Linked DNA regions of Homo sapiens. The protein of the gene in region 1 interacts with the protein of each later gene in a pairwise test. Each region holds a gene or a part of one and is shown in the gene's direction. Other genes may lie near its edges.

Region 1 (7,754 bases):
CTTCCAACATTACTTGCAAATCAGATTTAATGAATAAAATAAAGCTGTAGCACTTGGCACATTCATTGGGACCCTTACCCAAACATTATCAATATTGTGTACGTTATCTTTATTATCAGGTCACAAAAGATGTCATAAAAGAATTTGCAGATGACGGCGTCAAGTACCTGGAACTAAGGAGCACACCCAGAAGAGAAAATGCTACTGGTAGAATTTATACTTCTCAGCAAATGTACTGTCCTTTTCCTATGTGCTTTGATCACTCACATGTTTGTGAGTGGGAATATGAAGCACTAACTTTTATACTATTGTGTTGTTCTGTATTTCATTGAACCTTTAGTCAACAGTCCAAGTCCTCTCTCTGATGTACATTAATGATGTTCATTTTGTTTGTTTTAGAGACAGGGTCTTGCTGTCTTGCCCAGGCTGGAGTGCAGTGGTGCAAACATAGCTCACTGTAACCACAAACTCCTGGGCCCAACAATCACCTCAGCCTCTAAAAGTGCTGGGATTACAGGTGTGAGCCACCGTGCCCATCCTGATGTACATTATTAATGAGTGAGTTATTCTTAAGTAAAAAGTAGTAAAATTCCAGTCAGGCATTATCTGTTTAAGGAAGGAAACAAAGGCCTGCAGCAGTTTCTTTTGTTCTTCCTTGTTTAGTTGTTTTCACTCTGAGAAAAGGATACCTGCTCCTTATGTTTGCATTGTTACAAGCAGAGGCTGATTCTTGCTTCCTGCATCATGGGCACTTGTGAGACAATGCCATTGAGTGGATGCAGAATCATGTTTTATGGTAGTTACTAAAATGTAGGTTATTCATTCGCTTCTCAGGGAATAGTTTCTTAGGCCAGGAGCAAGCTGTGATGTGGTAAAACCTCTCTGGATAGAGATGAGATCTGGCTATGATCTGGAGGAATTTCCTGAGATCCTCCTTCTATAAGAGCAGCATCAGGAGACATTGGGGCCCTCTTAGCACCTTGTTTATGACCCAAAGAGACCTAGGTCATCTTGTTTCCTGATATATGTAGCTCAGTAATCATTTGGGGGTAAAATTTTTGAAACTTATTGTAAAGTATAAGTGTTTACATAAGATAAGGAGAAGGCTCTCATCTTGCATTTTTGAACCATAGAATCAGTTCCACGTTGTACTGGTGAGAGTAGTGAAAGGGAAGGAGAGAAGAGCCAACTCATAGGGCTCTTTCAATGGAGTTTTAAAAGAAGGATATTAACCTAAATATGCAACAGTAGAGGAATGGTTAAATAAAGGCTAATGGAATATTAGGCAACCATTAAAAATACTGGTGAAGACACTTTAATGACATGGGGAAATACTCGGACTCATGTTAAATGACTGAACTGGGTACATATATACCTAGTAGTATCTTCTCTATTTAAAAATGTGTATATGGGCAGAGTGCAGTGGCTCATGCCTGTAATTCCAGCGCTTTGGGAGGCTGAGGCAGGAGGATCACTTGACGCCAGAAGTTCGAGACCAGCCTGGGCAGCATCATAAGACCCCCCCCACCTCTATGGGCTCCAAGGGCTGCAGTGAACCATGATCGTGCCACTGCCCTCCAGCCTGAGCAACAGAGAGAGACCTTAAAAAAGGTCTCTTGAAATAATACATAAAAATAAATGTGTATATGTGTACTTGGAAAACAGTAGTTATCTCTGGGTGGTGGGGTTATTTTTATTTATTTATTTTTTTTGAGACGGAGTCTTGCTCGTCACCCAGACTGGAGTGCAGTGGTGGGATCTTGGCCCACTGCAACCTCCGCCTCCAAGGTTCAAGTGATTCTCCTGCCTCAGCCTCCCGAGTAGCAGGGATTATAGGCACATGCCACCACACTTGGCTCATTTTCATATTTTTAGTAGAGACAGGATTTCACCATGTTGGCCAGGGTGGTCTCGAACTCCTGACCTCAGGTGATCGGCCCGCCTCGGCCTCCGAAACTGATGGGATTACAGGCATGAGCCACCACACCCTATTTTTATTTTTATTTATAATTTTATATATTTTACCAGAGACTTTCCACCAAACATAAGCATTTTATAATCCGGGTAAAAGGGTATTTTATTTTACCCAATGTAGCCTAAAGAAAAAGAAAAAAAGGTATTTTACAGGAGGTTGCTCTGGAGAGTGCTCTTGCAGATCCCCTCAGAGAGCAGAGCACTCAGACTTGGAAGAACATGCCTGGTTCCCTGGATGAGAAACACTAAGCCCGAGCAGGATTGAGGGGAAAGGAATCCAAGTTAGGACTTTTTTTCTGGACTAGGAGGAGAGAAAATATCCCTTTTAAAAAAAAAAAAAAAAAAAAGGACAAGTGTAGTGGCTCATACCTGTAATCCCAGCACTTTGGGAGGCCAAGGCGGGCGTGTCACTTTCAGCCCAGGAGTTTGAGACCAGCTTGGGCAACATAGCAAAACCCCGTCTCTACTAAATATCCAAAAACTAGCTGGGCGTGGTGGTACCTTCCTGTAGTCTCAGCTACTCAGGAGGCTGAGGTGGCAGGATGGCTTGAGCTCAGGAGACAAAGGTTGCAGTGAGGCAAGATCATGCCACTGCACTCCAGCCTGGGTGACAGCCAGACCCTGTCTCAAAAAAAAAAAAAGCCTTTATTTTTTTTCATTTCATTTCTCTAACACTTCATTTCCCCCTAATTTTATTAAAATATAATTTGCATTTACTAAAATATACCCATAAGGGCCATGTTTTCACTCATCTTTAACTATGCCCTTGTCATAGCATAAAGTGAAAATGTAATTGTTCATATAGGATTGCTGAAGGTGAGGGATGAAATAGTTGATGATCTCTTTACATGTATTTTCTATGTGTCCTTTCTAGGAATGACTAAAAAGACTTATGTGGAATCTATACTTGAAGGTATAAAACAGTCCAAACAAGAAAACTTGGACATTGATGTTAGGTAAGAAGATTGTACCTTAGTAGTTAACATTTACAAAACCAGAATGTGAATTTTTACTGTTTTGATCATGGGTGTAATGGATTTTTTAAAATTAATCATTCATTGATTTATACAATAGAAAAATAAAATCAAGGACCCTGTTGTTTAAAGTGAGAACACAATTCTGAGTTTATTCATAAGGCAATAAAATTCTGAGTATTTTTACATGAGTAAAGTATGGTGTTCCTTTGCCATTAAGCTAAAATGAACTTCTTACTGTGGCCTACAAGGTCCCACATGATCTGGCTGCCTCTGTTACTTCAGCAGCTCATCTAGACCACTCCTCCTCCCTTACACGTGGGCCTGCTGTCTGTTCCTAAAATAAGCAAAAAAGACTGTTCCCCTTCAGCACCTTTGTTTAGTATTCCCCAGAACACATTTCTACCAGATTCCTGCCCAGCTGGCTGGCTTCTTCTCATTATTCAGATCTCAATTGGCTGTTACTTCCTCAGAGGGGCCTTCCTTTACCACTCTGTCTAAAGTGCCCTACTAATCCTCTAGTCACCCATCTATTTCCTTTATGGCATTATTTGTAACAAGATTAGGAATTATCTTGTGTTAGTTTGTATATATGCCCACCCACTAGGGTGTAAGTGTAGTGAAGCCAAGGACCTTGTTTTTTGATTCACCACTACATCTTTAGTACTTACCACAAAGTAGGTACATAGTATGGGCTCAGTAAAGCCCTAAATGAAGAAAGAAAAAAAGCTAGCTGTATAGTTTCAGGCTATAAGACTCTAAAAATTAAGCTTAAGTAATAACCCCAATAAAAAACCAAGCAGAAGACAATAGAATGCAGAGAAGAAGACATACAAAGAGCTGGTAGACATATAGAAATACAGAGAAAACTACTTAATTCATTAATCATATATTACAATACTGTTTCAGTAGGCTAAAAAAAGTAATAGCCAGTGTTTGTAAGTTACACACTGCTGGTAAGCATATGTAATTAATAAAACCTCTTTAAATCCTGCACTGGTACACAGGTAAGGGGGGAAAAACCTCTCTAAAGAGCAATATATGTCAAGATTTATAAAAAAGTTTTTCCCTCTGACACAGTAATTCTGTGCTAGAAATGCATCCCAGGAAATAGATTGATTTATGCATAAGATTCCTTATTATAATGTTATTTATAACAAAAATTAGAAAATAGCTTAAAATATCCAGCATTCAGAGGATAATTACATTATGGTATGCTCATATGATTTATACTATTTTCTAACATTATTTTAATGGCATGGGAAGTTGCTAAGTGAAAAAAAAAGATACAGCATTTTATATGTAGTTGATCTAAATTTTGTAAATAAATAAATGAACAAATGCTAAAGGAATTTATTTCGTCAATAAATAGTAAACTCATAACTGCTTTAAAAAATTATAGGGGTTCTCTGGGTATTCAAGAAATATTAACAGGCCAAGCACAGTGGCTCATGCCTGTAATCCCAGAACTTTGGGAGGCCAACATGGGCAGATCACCTGAGGTCAGGAGTTGGAGACCACCCTGGCCAACATGATGAAACTCCATCTCTACTAAAAATACAAAAATTAGCCAGGTGTGGTGGCAGGCACCTGTAATCTCAGCTACTCAGAAGGCTGAGGCAGAATTGCTTGAACCCGGGAGGTGGAGGTTGCAGTGAGCTGAGATCGTGCCATTTCACTCCAGCCTGGGTGACAAGAATGAAATTCTGTCTCAAAAAAAAAAAAAAAAGAAATATTAACAGAGATTCTCTGGGTATTCAAGTCTTATAGAATTCCAGCTGATATTTGAGGAATGAACTTTTATCAGATATTTGATACATTTTAGAAAGAGAATATTTCTAATTTTGTAACCCCCTAATGAAATAATGGATCTCACCCTCCTAAGAACACACCACCACCAGTTTACTCTTGCCAAAAAATGGAACCTGATCTGCCTCTGGACTAGACAGGAAATGTAAGAAATAGGACAACATGTTAAAGGCTGGGCATGGTGGTTCACGCCTGTAATCCCAGCACTTTGGGAGGCTGAGGCGGGCGGATCATGAGGTCAGGAGATCGAGACCATCTTGGCTAACACGGTGAAACTCCGTCTCTACTAAAAATACAAAAAATTAGCCGGGCGTGGTGGCACGTGCCTATAACCCCAGCTACTCGGGTGACTGAGGCAGGAGAATCGCTTGGACCCGGGAGGCAGAGATTGTAGTGAGCCCGAGATTGCACCATTGCACTCCAGCCTGGGCGACAGAGTGAGATTCCATCTCAAAAAAAAAAAAAAAAAATAGGACAACATGTTAACAACACAGGATACAATCAACAAAATCCAGACCATGGAAAACTTTGTAGGACAAACAACTTGGTTTCTTCAACAAATAAGTTACAAGAAAAGCAGGGTGGGAGGTGGGAGGAGAGGAAAGAGTGGTTGTAGATTAAGAGAGGCTTAGAAGATACATTGACTTACACAAAGTGTGGACCTTGTTTGGATCCTGAATCAAACAAACTGAAGAAACAAATACAGGAACAAAAAAACCTCGAAAGACAACTGTAAATCTGAACAGTGACTGGATGCTTGATGCTATTTAGGAATTCATGTCTCAGTCCGTATGACAAAGTAAAATGTCATGTTGTCTAGATTCAGTCAGGCTATACTTTTCCTAGTGAGATGTATTACACGTAGTCTGCCATCTCTGTCTGGCTGTACTCAGAATTGTCTTTTTCATCTGTGTCATATTAGTTTTCAACTCTGTCTTTCTTACATTAAAGGTATTTGATAGCAGTTGACAGAAGAGGTGGCCCTTTAGTAGCCAAGGAGACTGTAAAACTTGCCGAGGAGTTCTTCCTTTCTACTGAGGGTACAGTTCTTGGCCTTGACCTCAGTGGAGACCCTACTGTAAGTTATTTTTCCTACGTACATTTTAATTCTAAAAGGTAGAATCAGTGGGATAAGGACTAGCTTCGGGCATCTTGCATTGCATTCTCCAGAGTGTCCAACAGACACTCCATTCTGTGGATGAAGGCCTGTTCTGCCCTGGATGACCAGAATGCCTAGAGCAGCTCTCATCCAAGGTTCTGTGAAACAATTAAGTACCCTAAAAGAAAAAAAAAGAGTTGCCTGACTATATGACTATTTTCTCCATTCTTCTAAAGATGGTGCACAACTAGTCCCAGACTATATGCACTATAATGTAATTCATTACATACAATGGATGGATGTCTTAGGGTATTAGGGCTTAACTGTCTCATAGATAGTTGAGAAATGTTGACTTGAGCTTCTTGAATGTCAGATTCAAGCAGAAATCTTGATATTCGGGGCTGGATAATTTGTTGTGGGGCTGCCCCATGCATTGTAGGATGTTTAGCAGCATCCTTGGCCTCTACCCACTAGATGCCAGTAGCACTCTCCCAGATATGACAACCAAAAATGTCTCCAGACATTGCCAAGTGTCCCCTGGGGGGCAGAATTGCTCCTGGTTGAAAACAGCTGAATAAGAGAGTCCCATGAAATTGATTCTTATGGCTTTGTCCAAACCTGGAGTATTCTGCCCTTCTTTTTATCCACCTGTTTAACGGAAGTGTTTTGAGTAATCATGAGAGTTCCTGAGTCAAGTGAGTGAGTTCTCCTTAGCTCTGGATATCTAGGTGTCCTTCCAGGCATAAAATTTGGTGACTACTATATCCAGCTTAGCTGATTGACCTCAGTTTACTGATACTAGACAAGATTCTCGAGGGCAGGAACTGTGCCTTTGCCAGCTTTGTATTCAGTGAAGTGGCTCGCACATTGTAGGTGCTTTATAAACAAGATGTGCAAATGAATTAATCTACCATTATTTTTTTCTGCCATTATGTTGTTTATTGGAATGGAGTACTCAGTTCCTCAGTTTTCCCAGAATTCTCATGCATCCTTATTTTAACTTTTATCTTTAAGGTAGGACAAGCAAAAGACTTCTTGGAACCTCTTTTAGAAGCTAAGAAAGCAGGTCTGAAGTTAGCATTGCATCTTTCAGAGGTAAATAATATTGTCTTAGGCTAGAAGGGACAGATTGTAATAGAAAATAATAGGGTCATTTGTAAGTGACTAGGAATAAACCGGGATTGGAAAAACATTTTTTAAAAAGGGAAAGTAGAAATATTTTTACATCTAAATTTAAAAATACATGACTTGCTTCAGTCTCTACTGTTACTGTTTTTATCCTTTTGTGGTTCCTGGGAGTGGCTGTTGACTCAAATGCCAGCTGTGTCATTAAAAGCAGTTTAATGACGTCTTGCTAGAGAAAATGCATGAATTTCCAACATCAGTCTTGTCATTGGCAAGCTGACTCTAAGAAAAGCACCAATTTATCTCACCTGTCCTCATAGTAGAAGGGACCTGATTGTATCACATCCACTGGCAGTAAAGGAAGCAGCTCGTCATTTTTCAAAGCCCAGCAAAGAGGTCCAGTGCCCCTCATCAGCCCCAAGCTCACTGTTAGCATGAACGTAGTAACAGATAATTGCTGGGAAGTAGTCACTTTCTTAAGCACATCCTTATGAGGCAAACCCCTTTTGAGGGACTTTGCTGCAATTTTCCCCATTTTATAAATGGATGTATTTTTTACCTCAGTACTTCTAGCTATTTAATTATTTCTTAAATGCAGAAAATAATACTTAGTCTACTTACCTCACAGTTATTGTATTAAAGGGGTAATGTATAAAGGTTGAGTAACATCATGATTTAAAGATTAGGGAAAAAAATCAGAACCCCTTGCCAGTACTTGTATCTTTCATGTCTATAAGCAGAAGGTCAGTAATCTAGTGGCAGGACTTAAAATC
Region 2 (7,754 bases), on another chromosome or scaffold:
AACTAACTTTTTTCTTATTCCAAAAAAATGACTTGGGACCACTTATAAAAATTATGTATTGTTCAATGAGATACAATTAATGAGGAAATCAGGATGAGAGAAAAATAAAGGCAGGGAAATAAAGCTATGGCCCATTTAGCACAAACGCATCCCAAAGATTGCTAGAAGCAGAGGTGAAATTTTTGCTGTGTGTTAACAATCAAAGCAAAAAGAGGAACAAGGTCCATTAGAACATTCTCAGAATCCACAAGATAGAAATGAATCAGTTGTTCAGCATAAACACAGTGTTTCCTGGTGCTGTTGGAACACTTTGTGAAATTAGGGACAATATCTCATCAACATCCCAGACCAACATCCCAAAAGACCATTTAATAGCTTGCATCTGTGCTTCTCCCTACCCCATAGCCCCTCCCTCCAGAGATGACCACTATGCTGACTTGTAAAATATTAATCTTATATCCAGCCACCTTTCTTTTTCGTTTGTTTGTTTGTGTTTTTGCAGACAGAGTCTTATTCTGTCGCCCAGTGCAGTGTTGTGATCTCAACTTACTGCAACCTGTGCCTCCCAGGTTCAAGTGATTCCCCTGCCTCAGCCTCCCAAGTAGCTGGGATTACAGGTGCATGCCACAATGCCTGGCTAATTTTTGTATTTTTGGTAGAGACGGGGTTTCACCATGTTAGCCAGGCTGATCTCGAACTCCTGGCCTCCCACAGTGCTGGGATTACAGGTGTGAGCTGCCATTCCTGGCCTTATCCAGCCACCTTTCTAAACTCACATTTATTTCTAATAATTTGTCTGCAGACTCTTTGAGGTTTTTACATATCATGTCATCTGTCTTTGAGAGTTTTAAACATTGGACTGCTCCATTCACTCAAAAATTTTAAAAAATTCCATGATTGCATTATTCATACTTCATGGAGATAGATGGGGGGCTAAGAAAGCATACCAGACATAGTCACTTTCAATCCCAGGTCCAAATGCTGGATAGGTAGCTTCCTTGAGAATGGGCATGGTAGAAATTTCTGGGGGGACGTGTAGGGATTTGGGAAAAACACCTGGTTTTATGGTCATGGACTTTCAGTACATTTTTTTCCAAATCCCCTACAGATCAATTACTTTTTCTCTTTTTTATACTTATTTAATTTTTTTTAGATGGAGTTTCGCTCTTGTTGCCCAGGCTGGAGTGCAATGGCGCGATCTCAGCTCACTGCAACCTCTGCATCCCGGGCTCAAGCGATTCTCCTGCCTCAGCCTACTAAGTAGCTGGGATTACAGGCATGTACCACACCCGGCTAATTTTGTATTTTTAGTAGAGACAGGGTTTCACCATGTTGGTCAGGCTGGTCTTAAACTCCTGACCTCAGGTGATTCACCCACCTTGGCCTCTCAAAGTGCTGGGATTACAGCCGTGAGCCACTGCGCCTGGCCTCTTTTCTTTCTTTTTTTTTTTTTTGAGACAGGATCTCACTCTGTCACCTAGGCTGGAGTGCACTGGCATGATCATGGCTCACTTCAGCCTCGACCTCCCAGGCTCAGGTGATCCTCCCACCTCAGCCTCCTGAGTAGCTGGGACTACAGACACATGCCATCATGCCCAGCTGATTCTTTTGTATTTTTGTAGAGTCAGGGTTTTGCCATGTTGCCCAGGCTGGTCTCGAACTTCTGGGCTCAAGCGATCCTCCTGCCTCGGCCTCCCAAAATTCTGGGATTACAGGTGTGAGCCACTGCACCTAGCTTCATCCATATTTTTTTTAGCCATGTATAGAACATGAGATGTTTGAAGTTGTTTTCTGACAGGAATTTGGAGAGTGAATATTTTATGGTGCTGATTAAACCCAGATTCATGTGCTTGGAAAAGACAACCACAGGGAAGCTAGTGAGTGCTTTGAGATATGTCAAGGGGTAAAACTAAGACCACAAGTGGGCTGCAGAAGCACCTACAGGCATTGCCAAGAGGATCTCCAAAAAGCAGTTCACCCTGGTCTGCTCTGAAGTTTGGATACAAGTCCTGACCCATGGGCATGGTTCAGGATCTTCTAGCCTGGAAAATTTTCAGGGCAGTTGCCCACAACCAACCAACTGACAAAAACACAGCAATAGCTAGAGAGCACCCAATTTTAAGCAATCCACCCTTCCGTCAGCCTGCTACTGTGAATGAGCCTCAATATGTGATCTGTAGTTAGCTGAATTCTATTGACAGCCTATGGTTACTGGATATAAGCCAATTCTGTTCTGGGGACTTGCCAGAAATGACACAATTGGCCAGTTGACCCACAGCCTAGTTCCTAGCAGAGATTGGATAGCTGATTGAGCATTGTGGCTGTTTTGAGGCTTGACCAGAGATTCCTGCCGTTGGCAGAGGGGAATCTGTAGTCTTTGCTTCTTGGTAGCAGGTGAGGCTGAAAACGCAAGTAGCAGGCTAAAAACTGGTTTCAAGTCCTCACCATCTGGTGAAACCTCAGAGCCCATCAGATAGAAAATGCCAGCTGGGACTGTGCTAATTCGGTAAGGCCTGGGTGGAGAAGGAGGGCCTGGGCACGACCATCTGGTTTCGGAATGGAGGTAGCAGTCATTTATTAAGCACTTAATGTATATCGGGCACTGTACAGGAGACGTTCTGGCTGTTCTCCTGTACATTTCCTGCAAAGACCTAATGAGATATGATTACTCCATCCTACAGGTAAGGAAACTGAGCTCAGAGAGTCTAGCTGCCCAGGGTCACACAGTAAATGATGAGCCAGGACTTGAACACTTGACTGCTTGAATCCTGTACTCCCTCCAGGGGCCAAGATGTGGCAGCTCACAGAATGCCTATATCTTTTTTTTTTTTTGTCTTTTGAGACAGTCTCACTCTGTCGCCCAGGCTGGAGTGCAGTGGTGAGATCTCACCTCACTGCAACCCCCGCCTCCCAGGTTCAAGTGATTCTTGTGCCTCAGCCTCTCAAGTAGCTGGGATTACAGGCCTGCACCACCAAACCTGGCTAATTTTTGTATTTTTAGTAGAGAGGGGGTTTCACCATGTTGGCCAGGCCAGTCTCTAACTGCTGACCTCAGGTGATCCACCCACCTTGGTCTCCCAAAGTGCTGGGATTATAGGCGTGAGCCACCATACCTAGCTCTACATCTTTATCACACTCTGTTCCTTTGCCTTGGTGGGAAAAGTTGCAGCTTAGTACCAACTGCCTCCTGCTTGAGCCACTGTGCACAGTTACTATCAGCCTGGCCCTGTAGGCACGTAGAACCCCTGGACTCAATACTGCATAGGATGGGATAAGACCACATCTGATGTGGTGAAGGTCACCGGGATGATGTTGTTTCTGAGATAACAGGTATGTCTGCCTTCCTTCCCTTTGCATTTAGCTTTCACAATCAACAGTGTTGACATGAAGAGCCTGCCGGACTGGACGGTGCAAAATGGGAAGAACCTGACCCTGCAGTGCTTCGCGGATGTCAGCACCACCTCTCACGTCAAGCCTCAGCACCAGATGCTGTTCTATAAGGATGACGTGCTGTTTTACAACATCTCCTCCATGAAGAGCACAGAGAGTTATTTTATTCCTGAAGTCCGGATCTATGACTCAGGGACATATAAATGTACTGTGATTGTGAACAACAAAGAGAAAACCACTGCAGAGTACCAGGTGTTGGTGGAAGGTGAGTCCTTGGAACTGAGCACAGGCAAGCAGATGGAGCATAGCACACAGTGGCGTGAATAACAGCTGTGAATGAATAGTGACACTGGACTTAACTCTCCACCCATCACCCTCTCATTCATCTGCCTGGCATTTTCCTTACCTGAATACGTAAGCACTAGACATATTCCCAATAGGCCAGGCCCTTCCTTCCTTCCTTCCTTCCTTTCTTTCTTTGATGGAGTCTCACTCTGTCACCCAGTCTGGAGTGCAGTGGTGTGATCTCGGCTCACTGCAACCTCTGCCTCCCAGGTTCAAGCGATTCTCCTGCCTCAGCCTCCCAAGTAATTGGGATTACAGGTGTGTGCCACCACACCTGGCTAATTTTGTATTTTTAGTAGAGATGGGGTTTCACTGTGTTGGTCAGGCTGGTCTCGAACTCCTGACCTCAAGTGATCCACCTGCCTTGGCCTCCCAAAATGCTTCTTCATCTCGTCTCATAAATTAAAATTTCTTCTTCAAGACTCAACTCAATGATGTCTTCTCTTTCCAAAACAAAATGGGTCTACCCCAGGGTGCCAGTCAGTACAGCTCTGATGCTCTCTCTACATTCAATGGTATTTGTGTGTATAAAGGCCACAGCGGTGTGTTAAGACACCTCGTTCTGCAGTCACTCTGCCTGGGTTTCAATCTGGGCAAGTCCCTTAACAGCTCTAAACTTCAAAATCCTCACCAGTAAAAGGAAGATAACAACGATACCCATTTCAGGCAATTATTGAGAGGGTTAAAAGTGTCATGTGGGTAGAGTGCTTAGCAAAATTTCCAGCACCTAGTGAGTTCCTAATAAATAGAAATGTATTTATTTATTTTGAGACAGAGTCTTCCTCTGTCACCCAGGCTAAAGAGCAATGGCGCGACCTTGGCTCACTGCAACCTCTGTCTCCTGGGTTCAAGCGATTCTCCTGTCTCAGCCTCCCAAGCAACTGGGATTACAGGCACGCGCCACTGTGCCTGGCTAATTTTTTGTATTTTTAGTAAGGATGGGGTTTTACCATGTTGGCCAGCCTGGTCTCGAACTCCTAACTTCAAGTGATTTACCCACCTTGGCCTCCCAGAGTGTCAGGATTACAGGTGTGAGCCACCATGCCCGGTCCACAAATATTCTATTTCACTCAGTATTGCCATCCATTCTTACACATCTGTCTGCTCTTCTGGATAGTGAAATTGTAAAGACAGAGATGGTGTTTGGTTTATTCTTATATCTTGAACAATGAATGTGGCTCATAGTAGGCATTCAGTCAATGTTCATGGAATAAATTAAAGTCAGTCCTAGCCTGTGGCTGCATTCAATAAAGGGTAACAACAATCACAGTGACACTGACAAATACTGGCTACCTTTCCCCTCTAAGCATCATCTGTTGGGAATCTGATTGTGTCCTCTTCCCAATAGGATTATAAACCATTGAAAACACCAAGTACATCTTGACCATATTTTATTTTTTAAATTTATTTATTTATTTATTTATTTATTTATTTATTTTTAGACAGAGTCTCACTCTGTTGCCCAGGCTGGAGGGCAGTGGCACGATCTCAGCTCACTGCAACCTCTGCCTTCGGGGTTCAAGCAATTCTCCTGCCTCAGCCTCCCAAGTAGCTGGGATTACAGGTGCCTGCCACCATGCCCGGCTAATTTTTTGTATTTTTAATAGAGATGGGGTTTCGCCATGTTGGCCAGGCTGGTCTCAAACTCCTGACCTCAGGTGATCCACCTGCCTCAGCCTCCCAAAGTGTTGAGATTACAGATGTGAGCCACCTCGCGTGGCCTTAGTGGTGATTTTGGTGGACCCATCACCCGAGCAGTGTACACTGTACCCAGTGTGTAGTCTTTTATCCCTCGCTCCCTCCCACTCTTTCCCCTGAGTCCCCAAAGTCCACTGTATCATTCTTATGCCTTTGTTTCCTCATAGCTTAGCTCCCATTGAGCATATTTTATATTTTTTCCTTTCTTTTCTTCTCTTTTTTGAGACAGGGTCTCTGTTGCCCAGGCTGGAGTGCAGTGGTGGGATCACTGCTCACTGCCGCCTCAACCTCCTCGGCTCAGGTGATTCTCCCACCTCGGCCTCCCAAGTAGCTGGGACTACCAGTGCACACCACTAACTACCCCTGGCTAATTTTTAATTTTTTTTTTTGTAGAGATAGCATTTCACCGTGTTGCCCAGGCTGGTCTCCAACTCCTGGGCTCAAGAGATCCACCCACCTCAGCCTCCAGATTTTATATATTTCAAAGTGCCTAGTACTGTGCTGGGCACATACCTGTTCATTTATTACCTGGTAGGTCGCACTGGGTGTTCAGAGAACAAAAAAGAGCCCTCTCATGGGTCAACTACAGTCACTCAGCGGAGGGAGGCTTGTGTCTCTCAATCAGGCTGATACTGACAGACTTTCTCTTCAATCAGGCTGATACTGACAGACTTTCTCTTTCCCCGTAGGAGTGCCCAGTCCCAGGGTGACACTGGACAAGAAAGAGGCCATCCAAGGTGGGATCGTGAGGGTCAACTGTTCTGTCCCAGAGGAAAAGGCCCCAATACACTTCACAATTGAAAAACTTGAACTAAATGAAAAAATGGTCAAGCTGAAAAGAGAGAAGAATTCTCGAGACCAGAATTTTGTGATACTGGAATTCCCCGTTGAGGAACAGGACCGCGTTTTATCCTTCCGATGTCAAGCTAGGATCATTTCTGGGATCCATATGCAGACCTCAGAATCTACCAAGAGTGAACTGGTCACCGTGACGGGTCAGCATCCTGCTCCCTTCCTCATCGTTCTTTGTGGTTTCTGGTTTGGTATGGGGAGAAAGAACCCAGAACTGGGAAGGGGCTGCTGTTCTCAGGACTTAAGACCTGTTCTTAATCATTTTAAGCCAGTATTTTTCAAGCTTTTTTGACTGTTATACAGTTAAATTGCATACAATTTTTCAGACAAGAGTTTCACCAACAACACTTTACTCTTAATATATATGATGCTTTTTGTTTGTTTGGCTTGGTTTTTGGGGTTTTTTTTTTGAGACAGAGTCTCGCTCTGTCGCCCAAGCTGGAGTGCAGTGGTGCAATCTTGGCTCAGTGCAGCCTCTGCCTCCCGGGTTCAAGCAATTCTTATGCCTCAGCCTCTGGAGTAGCTGGGATTACAGGCATGCAGCACCACACCTGACTAATTTTTGTATCTTTAGTAGAGATGGGGTTTCGTCATGTTGGCCAGGCTGGTCTCAAACTCCTGATGTCAGGCGATCCACCCGCCTTGGCCTCCCATAGTGCTGGGATTACAGGCGTGAGCCACCACCCCAACCTTGTGTGTGTTTTTGAGACAGGGTCTTGCTCTGTTGCCTGAGCTGGAGTGCAGTGGCATGATTTCAGCTCACTGCAACCTCCGCCTCCCAGGTTCAAGCGATTCTCCTGCCTCAGCCTCCTGGGTAGCTGGGATTACAGGGGCATGCCACCATGCCTGGCTAAATTTGTATTTTTAGTATAGACAGGGTTTTACCATGTTGGCCAGGCTGGTCTCAAACTCCTAACCTCAGATGATCTACTCACCTCGGCCTCCTAAAGTGCTAGGATTACAGGCGTGAGCCACCGTGCCCAGCCTATTTCAGTCTTTAAACACTGGCCATGACACACTACACTGATGCATTATGTGATCTGTAGTTTGGAAGCCACTGCTTTAAGCCATCGAGGGTCAGACACCAGGAAGTTGGGTTTGGAGGGGATCGGGAGGAAAGAGGGGCCAGGTCCTCAGCCTTGGCCTCCTGTTGTTCAACGTAGATTTGCGTTGGACAAACAGCAAACAAATGAGGTGGCCTGGGAAATGCTCCCAGGAGAGAAGGAGGCAACAGCAGAGGGAAGCTGGGGAGTGTCCAGGACATACAGGGCTCTAGGACAGGTAGTCAGCCACTCCCAGGACCCGGTCTCATTTGCCAAGCCGGGAGAAGTCAGGGGAAGGCACACCCATGTAGATATTTGCAAATATTTCCAAAATAGGAAACTTACATTTTGTCATAAATGGTCCCCTTCTTTTGGCATCCCACTTTATCCTGCCCATTGTGTGTATGTGTGTCTGTATGTTCTATT
Region 3 (7,754 bases), on another chromosome or scaffold:
TGGGGCTTCTCTGCCTGTCGCCTCATGTCAGTGAGATCCAGACAAAAACAACCAGCACATTTCTTTCCCCATTTAAAAGTCAGTGTTTGTTGGCCGGGCGGGCACAGTGGCTCACGCCTGTAATCCCAGCACTTTGGGAGGCCGAGGCGGGTGGATCACAAGGTCAGGAGATCAAGACCATCCTGGCTAACACAGTGAAACCCTGTCTCTACTAAAAATACAAAAAATTAGCCGGGCATGGTGGCAGGGGCCTGTAGTCCCAGCCACTCTGGAGGCTGAGGCAGGAGAATGGCGTGAACCCGTGAGGCGGAGCTTATAGTGAGCTGAGATCACACCACTGCACTCCAGCCTGGGCGACAGAGCAAGGCGACAGAGCAAGACTCCATCTCAAAAAAAAAGAAAAAAAAAGTCAGTGTTTGTTTATCTTCAAAAACATAATTAAAGAGACACTAGCCTCCCAGAAAAGGACAATTTTGTTCCTAAATCTTAGTGTTTTTCAGCTAAGAGCTGATTTATAAGCCTTGCTCAAAGATGATTTTGAATAGTTATCTGTATTTTTAAAGAATAAGGATAATAGATGAAGACCTTTCCTCCCTTAAAAACTGCCATTAGAACTTCTGCTGGGGAGAAGAACCAAAAAAAGAAAAAAGAAGCTGCCTGTGAGATCAGCTTGTGTGAAAAAGGCAGTGTGGCCATCCCTTTACTTCCTAGTTGGAAATGAGCAAGTTCTGTAGCAGAACAGGCCATGGGTGGGATGAAATATGTGAGGGGCATGGTCCTTCAGCAGGTTGCTCAGAGCATCGAGATGCTGTTACCTGAGAGCTCAGGAAGCTAATGACCCGCCCAGGAATGGGAATGACAGACTCTTTATGGCACTCCCCACTGGCACGTCTGCACCTGATAGTTTCACTTTTCACCTCACTCAGTCCTATGAGGTCATTATTATTGATCCCTTGTCCACAAAAGAAGGAAGTAGACCCTGAGAAGCTAAGTAACTTTCCCCACGGGTACCCAGCTAGTAGACGGCATTTCTAGGACTCCACCCCATGGTGGAGAGAAGAAGAGACGACTCCCTGGTGGGTTGGTGGCTCACAGAAGTCCCTTCAGTCCACCTCCTGCACATGGGTAGGGATGATCACAGATCGCTGCTACTTCAGATAATGACAGAATGAATCCTTCAGAGTATTTGAGAGGCATGTGGCCTCGGGGAAGGCAGTGGGATGAAAGGCGGAAGCAGGACCTCAGCCAGGCTCACCATGTGTCAGCCCCACTGCCACCTCCTGGCTATGTGTATGCAGATGTACTCTGCATACCTAGAATACTAGAGCTTCCTCACCTGCCCCTCTGGATTACTGAGTGTCTGTGCGCTAGCCTCTAGCCAACACACAGACACGGTGGGTGGCGAACCTGGGGCTTGCTCTCACCCACCACTGGCTCAGCCATGCTACCTGTGCTTCCTGTTTGGTTTCACCTTTGCAACAACTCTCAGACTTTCATGAAAATCACAGAATTTTAGAACTGAATGAAACTGGCACAGCCCTCAACCTAGGGCACAGTCCCTCCCCTGGTGGCCATCCAGCCCCTCCTAGGGTTGGGGAGTGGGCTGTATGAGCAAGGATCTAACTAGTCGGTGGAAAGACGTCCAGTCATCGAAGCAATTCTGCTTCCAGGTGCCTTCTCACTGGTCTCTTTGTGCCCTGTTGGGTCACATAAAGTACACATGCTCCCTCCGCCACTGGGACCTGTCCCTTCCCAGCTGCTTGTTTCCCTGTGGGAACAGCTGCCCTTGTCTGGATGTGGGTTTCTCTTCCCAGAGCATGCATCAGCAGCAGCAGCTCCAGCACCAGCAGTTCCAGAAGGAACTGGAGAAGATCCAGCTCCTGCAGCAGCAGCAGCAGCAGCTGCCCTTCCACCCACCTGGAGACACGGCTCAGGACGGCGAGCTCCTGGACACGTCTGGCCCGTACTCAGAGAGCTCGGGCACCAGCAGCCCCAGCACGTCCCCCAGGGCCTCCAACCACTCGCTCTGCTCCGGCAGCTCTGCCTCCAAGGCTGGCAGCAGCCCCTCCCTGGAACAAGACGATGGAGGTAAAGCCAGTTGCCATCTTGGTGCTATTTTATGTTTTATTCGAGCACCTCCTGAGAAGTCCAAGGAGTCTCCATAAGATTGTAAACTACCATTCTCAGGGGTTCACTGTGTTCTCCTCTAACTTCCACTCTGGGGGTCTCTGTGGGAAGGCTTCTGCCCCATCCCTTGGCATCTCCCCTTCAGAGGGCCTTCTGGGAACCACCCTGGCCATCCTCCTGTCTTTCTCCACAAGGGCTGGGCGTCGCGGCTGACCAGAGGTGAGCTGCCCATTGGGCTGAAGAGAGTTCCCAGGGCCAGCCGGTGGCCAAGTGTGGAAGTGTCACAGTTGGTCTGCTTTCCTCTGTGGAAGTTGGCTCAAGCCAGTTGTCAGAGCCCCAATTCTGAGGGAACTGGCACAGAGCTGGTGCAGGGAACTCAGAGCCCTCTGTCCCAAGGAGTCTCCTCGTTTTACATGTCCATTGCCGCCACCTGAATGCTTCAGTGCGGATCTTTACAGTGGACTTTGTGGTGGTTGTTAACTATTAAACCATTCTAACTATATCACAATGAATATGTATAAGTGTGTGAAACGCTATGGAGAATCCCTGCCTTCCAGAAGGTTTTAAGATATGCAATCGCACAATAAGGTAAAGGCGGAGACAGAATGCAGGGGCAGGGGGAAGAGGCAGTCCTGGGTGTACATGGGGAGTGGGCCTGGCAGGCTCTTGCTGAGCAGCAGTCTGGGGTGCAGTGCCTCTTAAATCCCATCTTTTAATCTGAGGTCAGGAAGCTTGTCACTATGTTAACCTCAAGGTTCTTTAGGTGATATCTGTTTGAAACAATCTCTTTTTCCTATTTTGTCCCAGATGAGGAAACCAGCGTGGTGATAGTTGGGAAAATTTCCTTCTGTCCCAAGGATGTCCTGGGCCATGGAGCTGAGGGCACAATTGTGTACCGGTGAGTGGATTAGCCAGCCCCCTGCCCTCACCGCCTGGTGTCTAAGTGCCTGTCAGGTTGCGAGCCTGGTGCCAGGCTCAGAGCACAGCAGGGTCAAAGCAGTGACCTAGACGCATGGAGTCCGGCCTCCAGGGAGCTTGCACACTGAGACAAGCGATGATTCCGGGGCCACCAGGCAGTCAGGCGGGGCTCTCTAGGCTGGGAGGCAGTAGGTGAATGCTGTGGACCCAGGTTCTCACCTCATTTACACAGCCTGACTCGTGCTTCCCAGACACAACTCCCACTCCTCATCCCGCAGGGGCATGTTTGACAACCGCGACGTGGCCGTGAAGAGGATCCTCCCCGAGTGTTTTAGCTTCGCAGACCGTGAGGTCCAGCTGTTGCGAGAATCGGATGAGCACCCGAACGTGATCCGCTACTTCTGCACGGAGAAGGACCGGCAATTCCAGTACATTGCCATCGAGCTGTGTGCAGCCACCCTGCAAGAGGTGGATTTATTTTTTTTATTTTGTTAACTTTATTAAAGTCATAGCACTTTGGGAGGCCAAAGTGAGCAGATCACGTGAGCTCAGGAGTTTGAGACCAGCCTGGACAACATGGTGAAACCCCATCTCTACAAAGAAACCAAAAATTAGCCAGGCCTAGCGATGTGTTCCTGTAGCCCCAGCTACTTGGGAGGCTGAGGTGGGAAGATTGCTTGAGCCTGGGAGATCAAGGCTGCAGTAAGCAGTGATTGTGCCACTGCACTCCAGCCTGGACAACAGAGTGAGACCCCGTCAAATTAAAAAAAAGTTACAGTGAATTGTACTAATTTTAAATGTAATAGCTTGATGAATTTTGACAAATGTCTATACCCATTTAACCACATACACAGTCAAAATGTGGAGCATTTTTATCCCTCTGGTTGTAACAGGGTGGTCCCCCCAGCATGCCTGGGCAGTCTGCTTGCAGTTGGCATGTCTCTCCCTCTTTGCCTCCAGGAAACCTGGACAGTTGTTCTTTCCCTCTTCAGTCATGGCTGGTGTGGGCTTGGAGGATGCCAGTTGGTAACTCCAGGCTTTAAGATCATCCAGCAAGCTCCTTTTGCTCATTTTCCAGGCTCACTTTGAAACCATATCAGTATCATTTGGATTCCTTTGTAGGTTTACTTATATGAGGCAATGAACTTGAGTTTCTTGCCTTCTTATCTTTCTCATTGTAAATTAGTAGATTTGGAGGTTTGCTCCTTGCTGGAAAACATGGATTTAGACAGAATGTTGTCAGTAAAACTTGCCATTTCTTTCTTAAAATGGTATCAAAGAAAGTGAGCCGAGGGGCCAAGTCCTGAGGACTGTGTGCCGTGACCTTGCTGTCATGTCTTTTGCAGTATGTGGAGCAGAAGGACTTTGCGCATCTCGGCCTGGAGCCCATCACCTTGCTGCAGCAGACCACCTCGGGCCTGGCCCACCTCCACTCCCTCAACATCGGTGAGAGGCTGCACTTTACCAGGCCAGCGGCCCGGGTGGGGAGAATCAGTGGCCCAGGTGGGGCTAACCAGTAGCTCGGGTGGGCCTTGCTTCTGTTCAAGCTCTTGGCTATATCACCAGTAGCAAAGATGAGTGGTGTAAGAATTTGAGGAGGAATCCGACATAGTTGAAAATCAGAACATTTGGAGGTGGCGGCAGGCATATTGGGAGTCTGACGAGGACACATTCCCCATTGGAGGAGGCCTGGGGTTGCTCCTGGTAAGCATTGGACTAATCTGGAGTTCTCTGTTAGTTCACAGAGACCTAAAGCCACACAACATCCTCATATCCATGCCCAATGCACACGGCAAGATCAAGGCCATGATCTCCGACTTTGGCCTCTGCAAGAAGCTGGCAGTGGGCAGACACAGTTTCAGCCGCCGATCTGGGGTGCCTGGCACAGAAGGCTGGATCGCTCCAGAGATGCTGAGCGAAGACTGTAAGGAGAACCCTGTGAGTAATAGGCTATGGCCCTTTGAAAACTACAGAACCAGCCCATTGTATCTTCAGGAGTAGAACCTTTAAATTCCAGGTTTGGGGGCTGGTGCCCGTGTAGCTGGAGAATGGCATTCCTTTCACCAAGAGCTTCTGTGTGAACATTCTGTGTCATCTCATGTTCAGCTGATTAAAGGGGCAAATGTGGGCAATTATCTATTTTTTTTCCCTATTCTTCCAATCACTTGTTTTTTTTTTTTGTTTGGTTGGTTGGCTGTTTTTTTGTTTTTTTTGTGTGACAGAGTCTTACTGTCACCCAGGCTGGAGTGTAGTGGCATGATCTCAGCTCACTGCAATCTCCACCTCCCAGGTTCAAGCGATTCTCCTGCTTCAGCCTCCTGAGTAGCTAGGATTACAGGTACCTGCCACCACACCCAGCTAAATCAATCACTTTTTAACCCCTTTTTAATTTTGGTAAACTGGGAAGTCAGGGCTTGCTTAGCGTGAGCAAACTTCAAGTTTTCATTATTTTTAAAATTTTGTTTTTGTTTTCTCAACTTATTTTGATAATTTTTAGACATAGAGAAAATTAAAAGAAAAAAATTTTTTAGAAGTGCGATCTCGCTATTTTGCCCAGGCTGGTCTTGAACTCCTGGGCTCAGGCTTAGCCTCCCAAAGTGCTGGGATTGCAGACATGAGCCACAGCATCTGGCTGAAAGAATGTTAACATGAATACCTGTGTATCTCCACCTAGATTCAACATTTGTTAATACTTTTGCCACATTTGCTTTATCTTTACCTATTACTGAACCATTTGAATATAAGTAGCAGGCATCCTGGCCCTTCATCCCTGAAGACCTCAGCACGTGTCTCCTAAGGAATACATTGTGTTTCCAACCACAATACCATTATCCCACCTCAACAGTTAATACTGTTTCTATCCATCATCTCATATTCAATCCATATTCAAATTTCCCCAATTAGTCCCCAAATGTCTTTTATAGAGTTGGTATTTTGCTACCTACTGGGTTTTGATACCTACTGGGTTTTATATACCAGGATGGAATCAGGTGTCTTGCGTTACATTTGATTCTGTCTCTTGGAATTTACAAATCTTTCCACCTATATTTTGTTCCATGTTGAAGTTCCATTTTGAAGAGTCCAGGCAGTGGGTTATAGGATGCCCCATTCTGGTTTGTTTGCTTTTTTCCTCATGACAGCGTTGAACATTTCTCTGTATTCCTTGTATTTCCTGGAAACCAGAAGTTAGGTGGAGAGGCTTGATTAGGTTCAAGTTAAATGTTTTTGGCACGAATGTTTTTGGCAGGTCTCTACATCAGAAAGCATGTGATGGCAGATTGTATCTGTAAGATTATTATCACCTCCTCTTAGTGATGCTACAGCTGATCTCTCTACCATAAGGGTTCATTTCCTCCTCTCTTGTTAGTATTTGGGGTGATACTTCAGCACAATGTGAATATCCTGTTTACTGACAGTCACTCACCCAGTGGTTTAGCATGTGTTGATCACCCTTGCCTGAAGTACTCAGTTGAGTAGAAATTCTTCTACATTGTTAGCTGACATTTTTCTGTAAAGCAGAGCTTTCTTTTCACTTTCTTCTCTCTCTCTTTTTTTTTTTTCTTAATCGCTATGGGCTCAAGGATTTTGAAACTAATGTTATAATCCATTTTAGTCCTTTTTTTGTTATTTACTTCTTTTGATACACAAATTGTTCCAAATTTGGCCAACCTGGAAACCCCTTCAAGCTGGCTTCTGCATCCATTTGCTGGGAGCGCACTCACACTTGAGCACCTTATTCTAGCACAAGTCGCCGAGGCTCACCTTGGACACTCCCCGATGGAGACCTGGGTGGGTCAGTCATCTTGAGTGGATTAGATATGGCTGCCTCTTATCCAGCTCACTGGGGACCAGCAGCTGGTCAGATCATCAAAGAAGTCAGTTACAGCGAAGAATCATAAAAACACGCACGCACGCCGTAACACTTAATTTTAACTTAAAGCAAGTAATATTAGCCCTTAAGTCATAGAAATCTTGTGCTGTAGGCTAAGGTCTTTTCAGATTTGGGTCTGACTGACTGGAGTCCTCATTTTCCCCCTTGCATTAAGCACACTTCTGTACCACTTCTGTGACTTCTGCATGGAGGCTTGGACACTTCAAACACTTCCTAAGCGATTTGAGAGCAGAAGCCTGGTTTTTAACGCTTCATGACCCAGTCCCTTACGGTTGAATCCACCACACCAAATGCCGCAGCAGCTCTTGTAACCATTCCCTTTCCTTTATCGAGTCTTTCTAAAGATTCAGCTTACCTCAGACTTCGTGGCACTCATGTTTAACAGCTTATGGAATATCCAAATTACAAGGACAAGTGGCAATAATAAGTTTGGGAAAGAACATAATTGGGGCCAGGCAGGTAGGAAAGATGCCTCTTCACCTTAGTGTTGTCTGTGCTGGGGACAGCAGGCTGCAGAGAGTGTGGGGGGCGTGAAAGACCCAGAGAGCTCTGGGAGTCAGGGGCGAGCTCCAGCTGTGGTGGCCATGTTCCTCCTGTCCCGAATCCAGCACCTTCCTAAGGGAAAATCCAGTGAGGTAGAATAAAGCATGGTAGGTTTGGAGATTGGAAGACCTGAGTCCCATCCTGGTTTATCACATCCAGCAGTGACCCTGAGCTTGTCATGCAACCTTTCTGTCCACGTTCTCATCTGGGGATGAAAGCATTTGCTCTGCTCGCCTCACAAGGTTGTTGTGAGGCTGAATGAGAGTGCTGTGTT

What was found. Proteins that work in one complex are often made in the same cells at the same time.
Region 2: the proteins of MAPDA (region 1) and PECAM1 interact in binary tests that used the Homo sapiens proteins (3 or more experiments, as listed by UniProt).
Region 3: the proteins of MAPDA (region 1) and ERN1 interact in binary tests that used the Homo sapiens proteins (3 or more experiments, as listed by UniProt).

What each region holds. Positions count from the first base shown.
Region 1 is NC_000015.10:43,340,146-43,347,899, forward strand, and holds part of MAPDA (N6-Methyl-AMP deaminase), read left to right. Parts: intron 1-119; coding exon 120-207; intron 208-2,848; coding exon 2,849-2,930; intron 2,931-5,708; coding exon 5,709-5,835; intron 5,836-6,870; coding exon 6,871-6,951; intron 6,952-7,754. UniProt on the Homo sapiens protein: Catalyzes the hydrolysis of the free cytosolic methylated adenosine nucleotide N(6)-methyl-AMP (N6-mAMP) to produce inositol monophosphate (IMP) and methylamine.
Region 2 is NC_000017.11:64,373,725-64,381,478, reverse strand, and holds part of PECAM1 (platelet endothelial cell adhesion molecule precursor), read left to right. Parts: intron 1-3,361; coding exon 3,362-3,655; intron 3,656-6,122; coding exon 6,123-6,428; intron 6,429-7,754. UniProt on the Homo sapiens protein: Cell adhesion molecule which is required for leukocyte transendothelial migration (TEM) under most inflammatory conditions.
Region 3 is NC_000017.11:64,050,009-64,057,762, reverse strand, and holds part of ERN1 (serine/threonine-protein kinase/endoribonuclease IRE1 precursor), read left to right. Parts: intron 1-1,814; coding exon 1,815-2,088; intron 2,089-2,934; coding exon 2,935-3,025; intron 3,026-3,323; coding exon 3,324-3,513; intron 3,514-4,391; coding exon 4,392-4,491; intron 4,492-4,783; coding exon 4,784-4,983; intron 4,984-7,754. UniProt on the Homo sapiens protein: Serine/threonine-protein kinase and endoribonuclease that acts as a key sensor for the endoplasmic reticulum unfolded protein response (UPR).